Linked DNA regions of Homo sapiens. The protein of the gene in region 1 purifies or fractionates together with the protein of each later gene. This does not show direct contact. Each region holds a gene or a part of one and is shown on either strand. Other genes may lie near its edges.

Region 1 (7,037 bases):
ATGTTAATTAGAAACGCTGTGGAGAGTAACACCTTGGGATAGAGGGGATAGGGTGTGTCAGGAATGGGTGGGGTGGGAGCAGGGGAGGTCTTCATATAAGGTGTTAAGGGGAACCCTCTGGTGACAACACATGTGATCTGAGACCTGAAGTCTCAGATGAGGGAGGAAGCCATCATGGATCTGGTGCAAGAGTATTCTGGGCAGAGAAAGCAGCAAGCACAAAGGACCAAGGCAGCAGAATGCCAGGTGAGCAGGGGGCTTAGCAAACCAGAGAGTAGGAGATGGGTCGGATCATGTAGGGTCTCATTGGCCTTTGGAAGTACTTTAAAATACCCTGACTGAGATGGAGAGCCACTTGGCTGTATACCTGCCATTTACTGCCCCAGATTCACTTGGCCCTTTTCTAGCCTGCTCTGTAGATGTGCCCCAGGAGGGGGCCCTGCACTGACAGGTTGCCTTGCTTTATGGCTGCGGGCCATGGGAAGTATTGCTGGGGGTGACCGAGAAGGAGAAGAATGAGACCACTGTATTTCTTCCCTCCTGCAGGCTTGTGTGGGGTGGGGTTTCCTTAGACTTAAGGTCACATTTCCTGTCATGTGCCTTCTCTGCGGAGCTCTTTGTCTCCCTCCCTCTCCATCCTTCACACCTTCAGGTCTATGAGGAGTTCAGGTACCCCTGATTTACCAGCTCCAGATACTGCATTTTCTCTTGTGGTTTCCCTACACCTGCCCACATCTTTGTAAATAGTTCCTTTATAAACTCTCCTCAAATCACCCACTTTGTGCCATCTGTTTCCTGCCAGGACTTAGACTGATCCATGATCAGAGAGTTTTGAGCAGGGGAGTGACACAGTCTGACTAGCATTTTAACAGGCTCATTTAGGTTACTGTCAAGAGTAGATGGTGGGGAGTGAGGGTGGATACAGGGAAACCAGTTAGGAGGCTATTGCAGTATCCTGGGAGAGAGGTGACGGTGGCTTAGCTCACAGTGACGGTAGTGGAGGTAATGAGAAATGGTCAGCTCTGGATATTTTTATGAAGGTCTCTACCTTGCTAAGCTGTTTTGTTAATGCAGATGCAGGGAGGGCCTTTCATGACACTAGAGAACAAGACATGGTTGTATTGTTAGTGCCTGCCTTCCTTATTGTGCCATCTGGAATCATCCCATTGCAGACACTCTGATTCAGGCCAGTAGGTTAATACTGATAGTCTCAGAGGTAGCAGCCTTGCCAAAAACAGGTGTTTACAAAAGATACTACTGTTTTTCTTTGAGTTTGTCTTTGAACAGAGGCAAACGCGTCCTCCACTTTAAATGGCATGGTGTCATTGAACCATTGGCATGGTTCATTGTCAATGAAGTGACTTGAACTCTGAGGGGAATATAAGAGAATTATTAGTCTTGATCCCTGCCCTCAAAATTCTTTTATCTTAGAGAGATAAAAAAGAATATGCTGTAAGGCCGAGTGCGGTGGCTCACTCCTGTAATCCCAGCACTTTGGGAGGCTGAGGCTGGCGGATCACTGGAGGTCAGGAGTTTGAGACCAGCCTAGCCAACATGGTGAAACCTCATCTCTACTAAAAAAATACAAAAATTAGCTAGGCGTGGTGGTGTGCACCTGTAATACCAGCTACTCAGGACACTGAGGCAGGTGAATCTCTTTAACCTGGGAGGCGGAGGTTGCAGTGAGCCGAGATTGCACCATTGCACTCAAGCCTGGGTGACAGAGCAAGACTCCATCTCAAAAAAGAAAAAAATAAGAAGAATATGCTATAGGCAGTCACAGAGTGCTAAATTATAACTGCTTTGCACGAGGATTTTGGGGAGTTGAAAAGCCATCTGTGTGGGCTGAGGTGGTCAGGATGACTTCATGGAGAACGTGGAACTGGGTGGGCTGTAAAAAATAGAGTTTGGGGCAGCCATTCAAGGAGGGAGAGCTGTTTTGAGGGAAGACTCAGGCTTGACTGGGGGCGTTAAGATGGCTTACCAGGAACGGAGGGTGCAGGTTGGATGTGGTAGGAAATGAGGTGAGCTGGGCGGGTGGGCCCCTATCAGGGTATTAAGAGGCAGGTGATGTGCTGGCTTCAGGTTCGGGCAGTGGGCCACCACATATCCTAAGGAGGGACCAGCGGAACAGAATCCTGACCTGCTGTTGACTTATTTCAGCTTATAGGATCCAAAATATTAGTAAATGGAGGTGGAACAAATCACTAAATATGATAAAACTTCCCAACTTTTTATGCCTCTGATAGAAGGGACTGGAGCTCTGCTTGGTTAGGTGGTCAGTAGGCTAGCTTTCTGAATCCATTTTATTTTATTGAAATTCAGCATATACCATATTGCCCAAGTGTAAAGTAATCCTGCATATCAAAATTTCCCCATTAAAAAGTCCAAAAGGTTGTTTTTGGTCAAGTTGAAAATACATGTACTTTTAGGTATATAAGTGAAAAATACCTGCTTACAAAATTTACATTTAAATTTGGGTCCATATACCTACTTAAAATCACCTACTTTATAAAGTAACACTAATTTAGAAATGCTGGTTTTCCTCCTCTTCTTATTTATAAAATGTTTCTTTTCAGACTCTTCACATGCATCTTTGACTTCACTATTTTTATCATCACTGGAGCCACTTTTTGAGTCAGCCAATGTGGATTTCCGGACCACATGTTCAGTTCTTGAGATACATCGTTTTTGAATATGAATAAGGTGTTACCACTGAACAGTTTATTCCAAGTTACAAGTATCCACTTGCATAACATTAGACTTTTTTTTTAAGAAAGGGTCTCACTTTGTCGCCCAGGCTGGAGTGCGGTGATGCAATCACCACTCACTGTAGCCTTGACCTCACAGGCCTGCCTTGGCCTACCAAAGTGTTGGGATTACAGACGTGAGCCTAGAATTTTTTTTTTGCAGTGTTTCCAGTTGGTATATATTTGTGGTCACTGCAACTTAACCACTTTATTACTTTTTCAAATGATTTCTATTTTTTTTTAAAGACAGGGTCTCACTCTGTTTCCCAGGCTGGAGTGCAGTGGCATGATCATGGCTCACTGTAGCAACTTTCCAGGCTCAAGTGATCCTTCCACCTCAGCCTCTTGACTAGCTGGAACTACTGGCGTGCGCTACCATGTTCGGCTACTTTTTATATTTTTTTGTAGAGACAGGGTTTCCCTGTGTTGCCCAGGCTGGTCCCGAACTCGAGCTATCCGCCCACCTTGGACTCCCAAAGTACAGGCATGAGCCACCGCGCCCAGCTAAAATGATCTTTAAAACGTTGGTCTACTGGCCAGGCATGGTGACTGATGCCTGTAATCCTGGCACTTTGGAAGGCCAAGTGGGTGGATAGCTTGAGCCCACAAATTCGAGACAGCCTGGGCAACAGGGTGAGACTCCATCTCTAAAAAAAGTAAAAAATGAATAAACAAAATAAAAAGCTGGCCTTACAATGGCAGTTTACACATGGAAGTGTGAGTTTATATCTCCAGGGATAATTACTAAATTTGTGTTTAATTTATCTTGTTTCACTGATTACCATTAGCCAAAGCAGCCTTAACTGAGGTTGTTTTAGGGTATTGTGTCATCCCCAGCTGGTACTTTGTATTCAAAATAAGGAAATTGCAAAACTTCCTACAGCAAGAGGTACTTTGTAAGTATTTGAATATAAAGTGACTTGTATTTTCTGAGAGAGAATTTTTTTTGAAAAGTCTTGCCTTATATTTCATATATTAAATGACTCTTCTACTGCAGCTTCAATGACATGAATCTTAGGCAGCAAATCTACTTTCTGAAACATTCTGTCTCTGGGAGAGGAGGGAGATATAGGAAGCAGAGAAGTGATAGTGCCTGGTATGAAAGTTGGTGCCTCATGAGATTGGCTTTAGATAGAAGCTGTGAAAGAGAAAGTGCCAAATGCATTAGTTGTTGTTTACCACTTACTGAATGGAAACTATTCTCTGCTTTTATTGATTGGATTTCTTTTTTTTTTTCTTTTTTTATTTTTATTTTTTTTGAGACAGAGTTTCGCTCTTGTCGCCCAGGCTGGAGTGCAGTGGTGCGATCTCCACTCACCGTAACCTCCGCCTCCTGGGTTCAAGCGATTCTCCTGCCTCAGGCTCCCAAGTACCTGGGATTACAGGCATGTGCTACCACACCCGGCTAATTTTTGTATTTTAGTAGAGGTGGGGTTTTACCATGTTGACCAGGCTGGTCTCAAACTCCTGACCTCAAATGATCCACCCGCTTCCACCTCCCAAAGTGCTGGGATTACAGGCGTGAGGTACCATGCCTGGCCTAGTGATTGGATTTCTATTGATTAAATGAAAAACTCCATGAAATACCTTTTAAACAGAGCTGTCCAGAATGCAGGCATTTGGTTAGCTCTTCATTTATTTATTGCCATGGCACCTAAGTGTTGGGGACCCTAGTACAGTTACTTGATCCCTGGCCCCTAGAGTCTAACACAATCTCTCCATTACTGAACAATACAAACTAATATACATATAGTTATGTATCACTTAACAGTAGAAATACATTGTCAGTAGGAAATTTCCTTGTCATGTGAACATCATAGAGTGTACTTAACACAAATGTAGATGGCATAGCCTACTACACACCTAGGCTATATGGTATAGCTTGTTGCTCCTAGGCTACAGGCTACAAACCTACACAGTATGTTACTGTACTAAATACTGCAGGCAATTGGAACACAATGGTAAATATTTTTGTATCTAAACATATGTAAATATAGAAAAGGTAAAGTAAAAATATGTTATAAAAGATAAAAAATGATAGACCTATCTAGGGAACTTAGCATGAATGGAGCTTGTGGGCCTGGAAGTTGCTCTGGGTGAGTGAGTGAATGAGTGGTGAATGAATGTGAAGCCCTAGGATATGAGTGTACACTACTGTAGACTTTATAAACACTGTACACTTGTTACTGAGCAGACATTATGAAAAATAAAAATAAACACGGTATGCTTAAGCTACACTAAATTTATTCATACGCTTTTTTCTTTCAATAATAAATTAAACCTAGCTTACTGTAAATTATTTACTTCATGAACTTAAAAAATTTTTTTACAGCTTTTTGACCCTTTTGTAATAACAGTTTAAAACACAAGCACATTGTACTGCTGTACAAAAATATTTTCTGTATATTTTTATTCTGTAAGCTGTTTTCTACTTTAAATTTTTTAACTTTCTTTTTACCTTTTAAACTTCTTTGTTAAAAACCAAGACACAAACGCACACATTAGCCTGGACCTAGACAGGGTCAGGATCATCAGTGTCACTGCCTTCCATCTCCACATTTCATCCCACTGGAAGGCCTTCGGGGACAGTGATAGGCATGGAGCTGTCATCTCCTAGGATAACAGTGCGTTCTTCAGGAATTCCTCCTGAAGGACCTGCCTCAAGCTGTTTTATAGTTAATTTTTTAAATAAGTAGAGTTACACTCTAAAATAATAATATATAGTATAGTAAACATGTGAATTAGTAATGTAGTTGTTTATTATCATTATCAAGTGTTATGTACTGTACATAATTGTATGTGTTATACTTTTATAACACTGACAGTGCAGTAGGTTTATTTACACCAGCATCACCACAGGCATGTGAGTAATGCTTTGTGCTACAACATCATGAAAGCTGTGTTACTAGGCTGTAGGGATTTTTCAGCTCCATCATAGTCTTAACGGGACTGCCGTGGAATATGGGGTACGTTCTTGACCAAAACATCCTTATGTGGCACATTACTATATTAGTTTATATCATATATGTGTGTATAGTTTATAAGTTGATACATACTTAGTTTATATTATATATTTTAAAGATATATGTGTATATTATATATGTATATATTTTATATATATACATGTGTGCATATAAGTGTATGTATGTATATGTACGTATGTATGTATGTATGTATGTATAAAGCCTGACCAGCAAACTTGAAAACATTCTGTACACAGAAACACCTAGCCTGGGGCTGGGTGCAATGGCTCATATCTGTAATCTCTGCACTTTGGGAGGCTGAGGCACGCGAATCTCCTGAGGTTGAGACCAGCCTGGCCAACTTGGTCAAACCCTATCTCTACTAAAAATACAAAAATTAGCCAGGCCTGGTGGCAGGCACCTGTAGTCCCAGCTACTCAGGAGGCTGAGGCAGGAGAATCGCTTGAACCTGAGAGGTGGAGGTTGCAGTGAGCTGAGATCATGCTATTGCACTCCAGCCTGCATGACAAGAGCAAAACTCTGTCTCAAAAAAAAAAAAAAAAAGAAAAAAGAAAAGAAACAACCAAGCCTGGGCTGGGCACCGTGGCTCATGCCCGTGATCCCAGCACTTTGGGAGGCTGAGGCAGGAGGACTGCTTGAAGCCAGGAATTTGAGACCAGCCTGTGCAACATGGTGAGGCCCATCTCTATTATAAGAAAGAAAGAAAGACAGAGAGGGGAGAGAAAGTAAGAAAGAAAAGAAAAGAAACATCTAGCCTGTGCCCTGTCAGGAGCAGGGGTAAACTCAACTCTTGGGTTCCCTTTTTGCCATATCGTGAGTGATCAGTTGCCTCATGATTAGAGAAGGTGAGAGAGGTACTGTTAGGCTTAACATTTGTTAGGTTATACATTAAATAATGGGAGAGCTGGCCTTGGAACCTAACAGTTAGGTATAACATTGTGTTGATGGGAAAACAAATAAGGTCTAAAAACCAATGAACTTTGAGAACACAGCTTCTGCGTATGTTGTGGCCTGCCTATCTAAGTAGGTGTAGGGGATGAGGTATCACAAAACTAAGCACTTTGAAATCCTTTTCCTTTATTTTTCTAAGAAATTTATGGTTAACAAAAGTATAATAATGTAATTAAGAGCCATTTTTCTATAACTGAGAATTAACATTTGCTAACATCTTTTTTTTTTTTTTTTTTTTTGCTTCTGGTTATTTGTTTAAAGGAAAAGCAATTAGAAATATAGCCAAAGCCTCCTTTAACCCTATCCCCAGTTCAGTGTGCCTGCCACCCTTCCCAGAAGCAGCCCTTATCAT
Region 2 (7,037 bases), on another chromosome or scaffold:
AGTTCATTTCCAACCTTTTTTACTATTTACAAATGGTAGTTTAATAAATAACCCTGTACGGTAGTGTCCCTTCTTATCCACAGTTCCAGTTATTCAGTCAGTCACGGTCCAAAAATATAAAGTGGAAAATTTCAGAAGCAATTCGTAAGTTTTAAATTCTGTTATGAGTAGCACGATGAAATCTCATGCTGTCCCACCCTGGGCATGACTCATCCCTTCGTCTAGCATGTCCACACAGTAGATAAGTTACTTTGCTTTGTAGCCATCTAGATTATCAGATCAAAAAACATAGTATATAGAGGGTTTAGTCCTCTGCAGTTTCAGGCATCCAGTGGGGATCTTGGACTGTATCTCTTGTGGATAAGGAGGCACCACTGTACATGTCTCATTCACACATAGACATTTTATCTGTGATATAAATTCCTGAAAGCAGAATGACTGTTTCAAAGGGTAATGTGATTTATAATTTTGATAACTATTGCCAGATTGCCCCCCATGTGATTTTCTAATCCAGTAACTTGATTAACTTCATATAAAAACCATATAGTATTTTCTGAGAACTCACTGCCAGCTTTTCTACTGATTGTTTTCAGTAGTATCTCTTAAAAGTTTGGTTCTCAGACCACCTTTGTTGAATAAACCCTTAACAATTTGTGCCAGCCACTGGATAGAGACTGAGCCTTTTGCCTTCCTAGAGCTTACAGTGACACAAGTAAATAAAATGAACATGAAGAAAAATGGCAAGTAGCATTAGCTGTTAAAAAGAAAATAAGGATAATTTGGTAGAGAAAGACTGTTTGTTGGATAGGATGTATTAATTAGAATAGGCCAAACTCTGATATAACAGACCCCCAAAATATGGTAGCTTAAAGAGTACCAAGTTTCCTTCATTTTTGTGCAACAGTCCAGAATAGGTGTTCAGGTTAGTGGCTAGGCCGTCTTCCAGGTCCTGATCTCCTACCATCTTGTGGTTCCACCTTGCCCTAGGGCCTACTTGTCTACTGTGTCCAGCAGGCAGAAGGACTTGGGAGGTATTATCTTGTGTGCCAGGCTAGCAGTGACACAAGCTTTCATTCACATTCCATTGACAGCTTAGACATATGGCCATCAGTAAGTACAAGGGAGGCTGGGAAGTGTTGTGTAGCCATGTGCTCAGGAACGAGAAGAATATTGTGCACAACCAGTAGCTTCTGCCACAGTTGTTGAGGCAGCATCAGCCAGAGTGGTCAGGGAAGGCTCTGGAACTGAAGCGATGAAAAAGAGACATCCAAGCAATAAGAAAATCCAAGAAATAACATTTCTAGGCAGAAGGGAGCAGCGTGTTACTAGTACACTGAGGCATTTGAGAGATTTTGACCCAGGGGAGGAATGGAAGGCAGGTCTTCTTTGTTTGGAACTCAGGTAGCCAGGGATAGGATGGGTGGAGAAAGAGGTTAGAGAAGTGGGCATTGGCCAGATGATGCAGATCGTTGTATCCATTTGGGTTTATTTTGTTTTTCTAAGTGCAGTGAGAAGTCATTAAAGGATTTTAAATAGGGAAGTGATTGGATTTGTGTTAAGAAAAGATTGTTCCTGCTACCCTTTGGAGAAGGGCAAGGATGGAAACAAGGAGTTCATTTAAGGGGCTGTTGTGTTAGCGTAGGCAAGAGATGATGGGGATGAAGAGAAGAGGCCAAATTTGGAATCTGTTTCACAGGTAGACTCATAAGTTCTTGCTCATGGGTTGGACAGAGGCATTGTTGAGCAGCTAGGTAGATAGTAGTCCTTTATTGAAAGAAGAAAGATGGAGAGAGGAAGGACATGAGGGAAAAGTAAAGACTTCCTTTTGGACCTGCCCAGAATACTGTCCAGCCCTTTTCAGGAAATATTTGCTGACCCCTGGCATAAACAGGGCTCCCAAGGAAGGACAGTGGCTAGTGAAATAGATGAACCTATTTAAGGATATAACTTCCTAAAAATTGCAGCTTTCATGATGAAATTTTTTGCCCTTGAATGTATTTGGGATTTTGTGTTATAAAACTGTCTTAACACATTAAAAGTTTCAAAAACCGTTTCCCCCTGATTAATATGATGCTAGTTTGTTAGTGTCATGGCTTTTGATGGAAGATTAAAGCTTGGAAACAGTCCTCTGAAAAATCCTTTTAAAAATCTGTTCTTTCAGGTGCGTCAGCAATTTCCTGCTCCTCTTGGTTGGTCAGGCACTGAAGCTCCTACACAGGTCACTGTTGAAACTCATCCTGTTCAAGAAACAACCTTTCATGTAGCCCCTCAACAGAATGCATTGCATCATCACCATGGTAACAGTTCCCATCACCATCACCACCACCACCACCATCACCACCACCATGGACAACAAGCCTTGGGTAACCGGACCAGGCCAAGGGTCTACAATTCTCCAACGAATAGCTCCTCTACCCAAGATTCTATGGAGGTTGGCCACAGTCACCACTCCATGACATCCCTGTCTTCCTCAACGACTTCTTCCTCGACATCTTCCTCCTCTACTGGTAACCAAGGCAATCAGGCCTACCAGAATCGCCCAGTGGCTGCTAATACCTTGGACTTTGGACAGAATGGAGCTATGGACGTTAATTTGACCGTCTACTCCAATCCCCGCCAAGAGACTGGCATAGCTGGACATCCAACATACCAATTTTCTGCTAATACAGGTCCTGCACATTACATGACTGAAGGACATCTGACAATGAGGCAAGGGGCTGATAGAGAAGAGTCCCCCATGACAGGAGTTTGTGTGCAACAGAGTCCTGTAGCTAGCTCGTGACTACATTGAAACTTGAGTTTGTTTCTTGTGTGTTTTTATAGAAGTGGTGTTTTTTTTCCAAAAACAAAGTGCAAAGCTGCTTGAATCAGGAGGAGATTAACACACTGAACCGCTACAAGAGGGCAAAGCTGATTTTTTTTTTAACTTGAAAAGATTGCAAAGGGACATTGAAGTGTTTAAAAGAGCCATGTCCAAACCCATCTTCATGGATAGCTCAGAGGTATCCTCTTTTTGCTCCCCCATTTTAACTTGCCACATCCCAGTCACAGTGGGGTTTTTTTGTCTTTCTATTCAGCAAAAGTTAATATTCAGATGTTGGTCTTGGTCATTTGCCAACTAATTTTAAAGTAAAAGGCACTGCACATAATTTGCATAAAGGGCCCCATGAGGGTGTTTTTTTTTTTTCTTTTTGTCCCCCCCATCCCCCTTTTTTTTTGTTTTGTTCTGTTTTGTTTTGGGTGGGAGGGTGGGAAATTTGGGTTTTTAAGTCCTCTAAACACACTTGGGCACGGAAATGCAGTACTGTAAGGAAGAGGGACCTCCAGCTTCCACAAACACCATCTTCAGCTGTATGAAAGGGACGGTTGTGGTGAAGTTTGTCAGGCACAGTAAGCATGCTGAGTGGCGGGGATCAGAACTCTCCTATCTGAACCTACTGAGGAGCAAAGCAGCAATTACATGGGATCCTGTGGCTCTCCCGTTGCAGAGGCCACAGGAAGATAGGATGGAACGTGACTGGTCTCCTAACCAAGGTGCACTGAGAAGCAATCAACGGGTCGGTCGTGGCCAGTCCTGGGGAGGTCTGAGTGGTGGTCTTTGGGATAACCTTTGGCCTTATGGATTTGGACTCGAAATTAGAAGAGCCTACCATTTCAGATGCAATCACTTTTGGACATGCTTTTGCAGACAGTCCTTAATGCTGAAAACACAGAGAATGGGTAATTCAAGAGGCCTTTCTTTTAAAATAGACTTTTGTGACCCACTAATTGTAAGGTATTGCAAGGTCACTTTGCGTGTGTCATAAAGTTGACTTCCTTATTGGTTGAAGGTCACAGAAGTAGTGGTTTGCTTTGATGGAAATAGCTACAGCTGTGTCCCTTCCTGCTTTTTACTTTTTCTTTTGCTTTTTCTCGGCACGTGGTATCTCCACCATTTCTTCTGCACAAAGATGTCTTCTGTTCATCCTGAACATTTTTAAAAAATGCAGAATTTTATGTGACTGCTTTTTTGCCTCACAATTATGCTGTGAATTTTACAAAAATTTATTTTCTTTTTTGATAATTTATTGTACCAAAGCTGTTTTTATAGCACATAGATGTCTGTAACCAATAATGTAGCAGTTCTGCACTTTGACACAAGGTGTAACTAGACCATTTTTAAATGTCAGTTGAAAATTATGGCTGTACTATTGCTTAAACAAAACTGGAACTGTTGTTGAATCCATAGCCAATACATTTACAGCAATCTGTGTACTGAACATAGTAGATTGACATCTAATTCAAGATTACAACATCTGTTACATTCTAAGTGTGTTCAGGCTTCTGAAGGTAAAGGGACACTGGATCCAGAAGCTATGGAACCAGCAGTTGATTCTTGTATTCCTGATTAACCTACTTGTAAACTTGAAAGCAAGACCTTGATTGCACCAACAGGTCCAGAGTATGAGTGCAAGCAAAGCAGAACTCTCATGCGTGACCTGAGCAGACAGGCTGGTATTTAACAGGTGCCTCGTGTTGAGATTACGCTGCCTTAATGTAACACAGTCTGGCAGTTGCTAAATTTGTGTTCCCATTTTAAATTGACCAATTTTGGGGTGTGACACTTTTGAGCGGTTGAATTGGGAGAATGAAGATAAGTAATTTACCTGTCCAGGATCAAAAGAAGCCTAGAAAAGAAGCAGTAATCTACCTCTGCCGATAACCTGTTTAAGATGACTCAGCAGAACACCGCGTTTCATTCTATTGGTCAATTCCATGTGGCTGACTAGGTCAATTTTTTTTCTGAACAAAAGCAGGTTTTTATATGTAAACAGTGAGAAAAGAAAGGCTAAACACTATGTAAATGTGAATGGAAACTTGGAAATACTCGTTTTTATAAACTACAAAAACTTTTTGTTGTTTATCAGGAAATCCATATTTATTTTGTAATTAACTGTCAAGCCTGTGGATGATTTTTTTGAACTTGGTAGTTCATAAAGGTTTACAGTGAATAAAAGGATATCATCTTGAGTATAGCAATATCAAAAGGAATTCAGTAGTTACTGCTGTTTAGGAATATAAGGTTAAGATATCATATGGGTCAGGTCATTTTTTTTTTCTGTGCTGGTTGCCACATCTTAGCAAGCACCAAAAAACTAAAGCAGTTTTTAAACCGATATTTACGTAAAGAAAATCATAAAATCCAATGCTTCTGCATACTGTGTTATGTTACAGTCCAGTTTTGTGTGCTTTACTACACAGTTTGGTTACAGGACTTCTGTGCATTGTAAACATAAACAGCATGGAAAAGGTTAAATACCTGTGTTCAGATTGTAAGATCTAGTCCGGACTTGCTGTGTATATTGTAACGTTAAATGAAAAAAGAACCCCCCTTTGTATTATAGTCATGCGGTCTTATGTATGATAAACAGTTGAATAATTTGTCCTCAGACTCTTTACTATGCTTTTTTAAAAATTAATTTAAGAAAAATGTAAACATAGTAAAAATCTTCCTATGCAATTAAACTGGTCCAGGTCTGGTAGGTATAGTATCAAAGTTGAGTTAAATGTGTAAAAAGGAAACTATTTGAGATACATTGACATAGGCATCAGCAATCTCTGAAAGTAAAAATTGGAGGTTTAACAGATCATTTTGATTTTTCACATTGATTTTTTTATTTGAATGTTTACATAATTTTGTGATTCAAAATGCTCATATTTTAGTTGGTAGCATTTCGACTGGATGTGAGGGTCTGATGGTTTTCTCTGATATGCTTTGACGTGCTTGGATGAAGGAAGGAATACGAATACTCATTCTTCCTTCCCTAACTCCTCGTACGGGGCCATATCAGAATTCTAGAATTCTTGCCACTGTGATTCAATTGCTAACCTAAAGTCTTCTCTTTTTACAAATTCACCTGCTTCAGTATATATTAAGGTGGCTTTCGAGAGGCAAGATGCTTATTTAAAAGTTAAGCGTGAATCTGTAAAATTAAGGTTGGTTGCGTAAAGTTGAAGTTAACCACATGTAAGAAAGGAAAACTTCCATTAGTTTTCTTCTTAGGGTGTGAGAATTTTACCTAGGCACATGGATATTGGGCTGAAAAAAAAAAACCGACATTTTTATTTAAAACTACATGTAAAAAATCATGAAAGATTCAGTAATTATGTTAGGCTCACAAGTGACCATTGAGTTTGCCCCTGTACTGCTTCCCAGCTTTTGTGGTGTTGAACTTTTCTGTTCTTCCAATAGGGAGATACATAATCAAAATACACACGAAGACGAGATAGCAGGCACTCAGTTCTAGGCCAGTTTCTCAGTTTCCTTTGGGCCTGCCTTTATTTTGATAGTCGCAGAATGCAGGTTCAGATGCGATCCGGTGCATTCTGGGTGGTATCCCCATAGACAGAATACAAGTTCAAGACTCATTTTTATGTCCATTTTTATAGTGGTAGACTGTATGTAATAGACCAGATGGTTCATTCCAAATACATGACTTGGTCTTACTGCTATATATGAAGGAAGTTTGAAAATGTAATGGGGACAAAAGCCGTGCGTGACTTCGGTATACCCAGACTTCATTCAGATTTCTTAAAAATCTGCTAGGGATGTCTGTTGACCAGACGTTGGAAAACCTTTGGTGTCAGGGAGAGTAGAGGAGAAGTTCTGATTTTCATAACCCTGGTTTCTTATCTAGGCCTGTTTCCTTGCGTGAAAACATACATCACCAAGTAATTTGTAGTACAAAGAACAAGAGAAGAAACCCTAAGAAGATAGCTTATTTGTTATCCTCCCTTTTAATGACTAACCTTAATCCAAATGAATCCACTGAGAACCAGCCTGTGGATGCCTACTGGGCTTTCACCCTGGACCAGGAATTTTTGACGTATGCCTGTGTTGAAGGCACTGGATGCTTGTTTTGTGGAAGACATGTTCATTGAGGTAAGTGGCTCATCGCTTGGTGTGTTTGGCTCTCTTTGGCATTATGCATAGCCAAGGTCCCAGATTTTGGCTGCTCTCAGTGGGTGTTCTTGCATCAGAACTTTAAAAAAAATAA
Region 3 (7,376 bases), on another chromosome or scaffold:
TCTCAGTTTTTTATTCCTAAGCTATTTAATTTTCTATACAGAAAAAGTAATTGAAGCGTATACTTACCATACTTGTCTCCATTTGGAAAGATAAAGCTGATCTTATACACTTCTGAAGCTGTTTTAAAAGATTTAAAAACAGTGACATAAGTTTACTTTTTTTTCGATAGAGGCAAGGTTTCACTACATTGCCCAGGCCAGTCTCAAACTCCTGGGCTCAAGCGATCCTCCCGCCTCAGCCTCCCAAAGTGCTGGGGATGCAAATGTGAGCCACCACACCCAACCAAGTGTAAACATTCTTATGTCATAAGACCTATACCCAATGTGCTTTCAGCACTATCCAAATGGACTTACTTCTCAAGATCACATCATATCATGATTACTTGGTATTTCCATTGTCTAATGTAGGGTCCCGGGGAAATAAACAATTTTGCCTAGATGATCTCTTTTAAAATTTATTTATTATGATAGCTTTATTAATATATAATTCACACACCACAAAATCTACCCTTTAAAAAAATACAATTTGATTTTTTTAGTATATTCAGAGTTGTGCAACTATCATCACAATCTAATTTTAGAATATTTTAATCATCCCAGAAAGAAACTCTGTACACATTAGCAGTTACCCATTATGATTCCCCTCAAACACCCCTCACCCCACAACCCCAAACCCCTGGCAACCACTAATCTACTTTCTGCCTCAGGGATTTGCCTATTCTGGACATTTCTTATAAATGAAATCATATAATATGTGGTCCTTTATGTCTGGCTCGTTTCACTTAATGTTTCCAAGGCTCATCCATGTTGCATCGTGTATCAGTACTTCATTCCTTTTTATAGCCAAGTATATTGTATAAATATGTTGTACAGAAACAGCATATTTTGTTTATTCATTCATCAGTTCATGGACATGTAGGTTGTTTCCAGTTTGAGGCCATTATGAATAATACTGCTATAAACACTGATGTACATTTTCAAAACATACAGCTTCCTAGGAGTAAAAAAAAAATTGGTGTACAGATTTTTGTGTGGATATGTTTTTATTTCTCTTTGGTAGCCCATATGATTTACTGATTGTCCCACAGAGGTAAGGTGGAGTGAGGAATCTTTAAATTGGCAATAGGAAGAAATGGAAAATAAAGATAGCAAGTGGGGAAGGGCTGGTAGGTCCACACAGAATGAGACTGGAATGGAGACCAAGTGAAAAAGGAAGAAAGAGGACCGCAAGACTGAGGGGGACTCTGGGCCTCAGATCCCTGGACACTTACTGGACTAAAACTAGAAACTGTATTTTCCGATACTGAAGAAAACTTATGTAGAGACGGTATGCAGGCCCATCCTTCAGAATCACCTGAGATGCTTCTAAGTTTCTTCTCTCTACCCCACATCTACTGAATCAGTCTTTACGGGTGGGGCAAGGGAATTTAAAAATTAATTTAGGTACCACTTGAGAAAGGCTTGGAGGCTCATCACTGAGGAAACAGAGTTAACACAATAGGTAGAGGACTTAAACTGTAACATCCTCAGAGAGAAAGGGAGAGTATTAGTATCCTTGAAATAGGAACAGGTGATTACAAAAAACAAAAAACAATTAGCAATCCAGGAAATGAATAATATAATTGGTGAAATAAAACTTCTTAGAAGGGATGAAAAGCAGAATAGATACAATTGAAAACAAATTAGTGAACTGGAACATTAGGTTGAAAAATGTGCTTAGAAAGTAGCACAAAGTGTGAGTGAGATGGCTGGAAAAAAAATTTTTTAATTAAAAAAAAAGAAAGTAGCACAAAGAATTTTAAAATGATGGAAAGTGGATCCAAAAGGCTACTGTCAGTCTAATAAGAATTCCAGAGGGAAAGAATAAGGGATATTTGAATAAATAGCCAAATTTTTCTCAGAACTGAAGAAAATGACTGCTTGGACTACAAATGGGAACTAAGCAAAATCCCACACCTAGACAGGTTACAGTACAATTTCATGACATAAAGACCAAAGGCCAGCTAGGCTAGTTAAAAACAAGCAAACAAAAACCAGATTACCTACAATAAACTACAAAGGACTGACATTAGCAACAGTGGATTCTAAAAAAAAATGGCACTATGTCTTTAAAATTCCGAGACAAAATTATTTTCAACCTAATATTCTACATCCAACGAAACTATCAATCTAAAATCATGGAAACTGGCAGGCACGCTGGTAGGATGAATTACTGGCTCATGCCTGGAATCCCAGCACTTCGGGAGGCTGAGGAGGGTGGGTTGCTTGAGCCTAGGAGTTCGAGACCAGCCTGGGCAACATGGTGAAACCCATTCTCCACAAAAAATACAAGAATTAGCTGGGTGTGGTGTTGCATGCTTGTTGTCCATGCTACTTGGGGGCTGAGGTGGGAGGATCGCTTGAGCCCAGGAAGTGAAGGCTGCAGTGAGTCCGATCACACCCTGCCCTCCAGCCTGGGTGAGACAGCAAGACTCTGTCTTAAAAAAATAATAAAATAAAAAAAATTAAGTTTTAAAAATAGAATCTGGTGGCTCATGCCTGTAATCCCAACGCTTTGGGTGGGTGAGGTGGGAGGACTGCTTGAGCCCAGGAGTTTGAGACCAGCCTGGGCAACATAGTGAGATTCCATCTACACCAAAATTAAAAACTCAAAAAGAAAAAAAAAGAATCTGTAACTAAAACTCAGGTAATATCAATATGGAAATGGTGTGGAGGATAGAGAGCAATCTTGCTAGAATTCTGATCTCGTTTAGGGGTTAAATATAGACACTAATTAACACTAAATCTTAGAAAAATCTGAATTTAGTTATGTTTGCTTATTTTTTCCCCATAATTTCTAAGATTTGGTTGTGGATAAAGGGTGAAGTATGGTGGTATACAGAAATTGCCATGTGTGCTCATTAATTAGTTATTTACATGTCTGCAAGATGTGAAATTCCAAGAGAGCAGGGACACAGAGCTACTTTCTTTCTTTTTTATTTTTTAATTTAATTTAATTTAATTTAATTTATTTATTTATTTATTTATTTTTGAGACGGAGTCTCGCTCTGTCGCCCAGGCTGGAGTGCAGTGGCTTGATCTCGTCTCACTGCAACCTCCGCCTCCCGGGTTCACGCCATTCTCCTGCCTCAGCCTCCCAAGTAGCTGGAACTACAGGCGTCAGAGCTACTTTCTAAGTGTTTAACTAATGATAACTAACTAGATTACCAGATCTGCTTGTAGTTTCCCACAGATGCCATGCCGTACTCTGGGTGGAACACCCTTCTCTTCTTTACCTGGTTAACTGCTATTCATCCTCAAGAGTTGGCAAAATAGAGTGTAGTAGTTAGGGGTTCATGCTCTGGCATCGGACTACCTACCTTTGCATCCAGACTCCACCATTTTCTCTGACCTTGGACAAATAATTATCTTATGCCTCAGTTTCCTCATCCTTAGATGGGGCAAATCAAGTAAATGAGCTAATCTAGTTAAAGCACTTAGCCCAGTGTCTAAACTCTGTAAATATTAGCTATTGTATTCTTGTAGCCCCAGCTCAGGTATGAGCTCTCCCACAAAGCCTTTCTTCTCATTACTTGTCAACCTCAGACTCCTTCAGGAACCCCCACGGCACTCTGGGCCTATTCCTACTGTAGTACTTAAGGTTCTATTAAAACCATGCTTTTGTATCGGGATCCCCTATCCCACCCAGTTCCTCCAGGACACGGATGGCAGATTAGTCAAATCTCTTCTCACCCCACTGTCCGACTCCGTGTTTAGTACTAATAGTAACAGAACGTCTAGTGAATGAAGGGCACTTCGGAAGGAATCGTTAAGTGCCTATGAAGCAGAGCATTAAACGTAATCATATCAGAAACTGGACTGTTTTCAATTGCCGCTAAAATGTTCTACATTCGAAACTTGGGAACGTCAGAGCTAGAGGGAACCTCACAGAGACCACCCGGCACCATAGCGGAAACTGAGGCCCAGGGAGGTTGGCACGCGCCTCGGGTGTCTCAACAGCGAATTAACAACAGAATCAGAGCTAGATTCCCAGACCAGGGGTTCCCCCGTGCCCCTCGGCTAGACGGTCAGGAAATATATCACACCCCCACAGGAGTTACCGGGAGCCAAGCAGGTTCTGACTCCACGCTAGTTCGACTTAAAGGAGCTCTTCTCTGCCCGGGTCGTTAGGAGGAGGGACACTCACTTGGCCGAGAGGTGTTAGAGAGATCTTCCAAACTCTGCGACTCCCCCTGGGCGGCCAGCTCTGCGGCCGGGAGAGAACTAGGCGCTAGGACAGCTCCAGGTGCGACTTGGTTGCTGGGGCGACCGGGCACCTCTCACCCGGAAGCGAATACGCGAGGGGCTGTAGCTGAGCCAATCAGAAGGCGCCGGGACTGTGCCGCTGCAGCTGGGCCACCGCAGGGCTGCTCCAAGTGAGAATCGTGAGGGTGGCCAAGTCCAGTTTGGACCTCTGACCCTTGGGCAGCACCTCCCGACAGCCGGCTCGGGACCCAACTCTGCGAGCCAGGTACGTCTTCCACTTCTGCGGACAAGTGATGCGCGTTGTGCGCACGGTGTGCGCGTCACCCTGTTTGTCAGTGTGTCTGCCGCCTCCTGCTCCAGGAGTGGTCGGGATCTGACGAGCATCGCGGCCCAGTGTGTTTCATCCAGTCTGCCTGGGGCCGGTGAATCTGGACCAGCAGGATCCCAGGCCCTGATACCGAACCAAGGCGGGCTCTGCCGCTGAGGTTGTCCACGCTCAAACTGCAGGTTGGGGCCGGGGGGGGCGGGGCGTGAAATTCAGTCTTGGAGCAGGCTAAGGGGTTGATTGAAGGGATCAGGCTCCGTTCTCTGACTCCGTCTGTGTGGCTTTTTTGGGGAGAAGGGTGGGGACGATGTGAGTTCGAAAAAGGATACGAGATCTGGATATCTGGATGGAGCTGGATATATTGTGATCAGTCAGAGATCTGCCTGGGAGGAGAGTAGTGTGTAGTCACTTTTCAGTGCCTTGGCTATCAAACAAAGAATACTCTTACAGCCAAACTTAGGTCCCTGTATCCATGGTGAAGAAAGATAGTTGGAGTCTTCCCGGGCTAGATGGAATAGATAGTGGAATCTAACCACGTGGATTATACAACCTAATTCCTATTCCCTTGAAAACTCTGGGAGAGTGGTATTGGACACCATTACAGTCAGTAAATCTTCGTTTAAAATGTTAAGCGCATATCTCAGATCTAGTTGTAAAAGTAACATTTTCTGGGTTGGTGTGAGACAACTTGTTTTGATTCAGCGTAAGTATCCTCTTGCTTTTTCCTAATGTTTCTCAGTACACAAATTTACCTGGGCTGCATGGTTTTTGAGATGAAGTTCTAATCTAACTGATTTGTTATTTCATTTCCCTAAATTTTAGAAATAATAGGTAATTATTGGTGCACAACCTTACAGAATTCAGTTTGACCTGTTATTTTTCTTGCCTGTTAAGATTTTAATGACTCTACATTTTTGTGAGTAAAGTTGACGTTTGAACAACATGGGTATGAACTACCCGGCTCCACTTACAGGTGGATTTTTCCCAACCCAACACAGATTGAAAATACAGTATTTCAGGTCGGGCGCGGTGGCTCACGCCTGTAATCCCAGCACTGTGGGAGGCCGAGGCGGGCGGATCACGAGGTCAGGAGATCGAGACCATCCTGGCTAACACGGTGAAACCCTGTCTCTACTAAAAATACAAAAAATTAGCCGGGCATGGTGGCGGGTGCCTGTAGTCCCAGCTACTCAGGAGGCTGAGGCAGGAGAATGGCGTGAACCCGGGAGGTGGAGGTTGCAGTGAGCTGAGACTGCGCCAGTGCACTCCAGCCTGGGCGACAGAGTGAGACTCTGTCTCAAAAAAAAAAAAAAAAAAAAAAAAAATACAGTATTTCAACTAGGCACAGTGGCTCATGCCGGTAATCTCAGCACTTTGGGAGGCCAAGGTGAGACGATTGCTTGAGCTCAGGAGTACGAGACCAGCTTGGGCAGCAAAGCGAAACCTCATTTCTACTAAAAAATGTTTAAAGTAGCTGGGTGTGGTGGTGCACCTGTGGTCCCAGCTATTCAGGAGGCTGAGGCAGGAGGATTGCTTGAGCCTAGGAGATCGAGGCTGCAGTAAGCTATGATCGTACCACTGCACTGCAGCCTGGGTGATAGAGCAAGATCCAGTCTCAAAAAAAAAGAAAGAAAGAAAAAAGAAAAGACAGTATTCCTGGAATGCAAAACCCACATACAGAGGGCCAACTTTTCCTCTATGCAGGTTCTACAGGGCTGACTGGAGAACTTGAGTATCCGTGGATTTTGGTATACATGGGGGTTCTGGAACCAATCCCCTGTGTATACCGAGGGATGACTATTTCATGGCTCATTCTGTCAATTTCTTCCGGATGTCCTTTAAAATCTCAAAGAGGCCTTACCCAACCACTCTATCTAAAATAACTGCCTCGGGGGTTTTTTTTCCTTGATAGCACTTAAGTTATAATATATATCTATTTGTTTAATGTCTGTGTTACCCTCTAGAAGGTAAGCTTCATGAAGCAGAAATTTTGTCTTTTTTGCTGTTATATCCCCAGGATCTGGCACATAATAAGTGCTCAATAAATATTTGTGGAATGAATAAATAGATGAACAAATCTCCATTCCCACATAAGTCATTTTTTCAACCTTCAATCATTCATTCCACAAATAGATACTGAATTCCTACCATATGCTAGACACTGTGTTAAGGGTACAGTGGTAATCAAAATAGACATAGTCTTGTTTTCAAAGAGCTTTCTGGGAGTAGAAAGGAGAGACAAACTTAAGATAAACTCTGAATACATATGTATAATCATCAGCAATTTTGAAGAAAGGAATACCTAGGAAGACCTAGTTTAATATACACATATTTGTGAGTTTCCCAAATTTTTTCTAGCTTTTGATTTCTAATTCCATTTTGGTTGGAGAACATAGTTCATATTATTTCTTTCTTTTTACATTTATTGAGGTTTATGGCTGGGCACAGTGGCTCACGCCTGTAATCCCTGCACTTTGGGAGGCCAAGGTGGACAGATCACCTGAGGTCAGGAATTCGAGACCAGCCTGACCAACATGGTGAAACACCATCTCTACTAAAAATACAAAAATTAGTCAGGGAGCATGGTGGCGGGTGCCTGTAGTCCCAGCTACTCGGGAGGCTGAGGCAGGAGAATCGCTTGAACCTGGGAGGCGGAGGTTGCTGTGAGCCAAGATTGTGCCACTGCACTCCAGCCTGGGCGACAGAGCAAGACTCTGTCTTAAAAAAAAAAAAATGTATTGAGGTTTCTTTTATCACCTAGTATGGTCTATATCCTGGAAAATGTTTCATGTGTACTTCAGAAGTA

Evidence for each region.
Region 2: the proteins of FNTB (region 1) and DYRK1A purify together in Homo sapiens (affinity purification with mass spectrometry; 5 studies listed by BioGRID). This does not show direct contact.
Region 3: the proteins of FNTB (region 1) and DHX57 purify together in Homo sapiens (affinity purification with mass spectrometry, with the first as the bait; 3 studies listed by BioGRID). This does not show direct contact.

The regions. Positions count from the first base shown.
Region 1 is NC_000014.9:64,989,864-64,996,900, forward strand, and holds part of FNTB (protein farnesyltransferase subunit beta), read left to right. Parts: intron 1-7,037. UniProt on the Homo sapiens protein: Essential subunit of the farnesyltransferase complex. Catalyzes the transfer of a farnesyl moiety from farnesyl diphosphate to a cysteine at the fourth position from the C-terminus of several proteins having the C-terminal sequence Cys-aliphatic-aliphatic-X.
Region 2 is NC_000021.9:37,509,750-37,516,786, forward strand, and holds part of DYRK1A (dual specificity tyrosine-phosphorylation-regulated kinase 1A), read left to right. Parts: intron 1-2,161; coding exon 2,162-2,782; 3' UTR 2,783-7,037. UniProt on the Homo sapiens protein: Dual-specificity kinase which possesses both serine/threonine and tyrosine kinase activities. Exhibits a substrate preference for proline at position P+1 and arginine at position P-3.
Region 3 is NC_000002.12:38,872,921-38,880,296, reverse strand, and holds the start of DHX57 (putative ATP-dependent RNA helicase DHX57), read left to right. Parts: upstream 1-4,362; 5' UTR 4,363-4,510; exon of another isoform or gene 4,511-4,752; intron 4,753-7,376. Other genes in the region: MORN2 (MORN repeat-containing protein 2), read right to left, coding at 68-118, 4,187-4,244. UniProt on the Homo sapiens protein: Probable ATP-binding RNA helicase.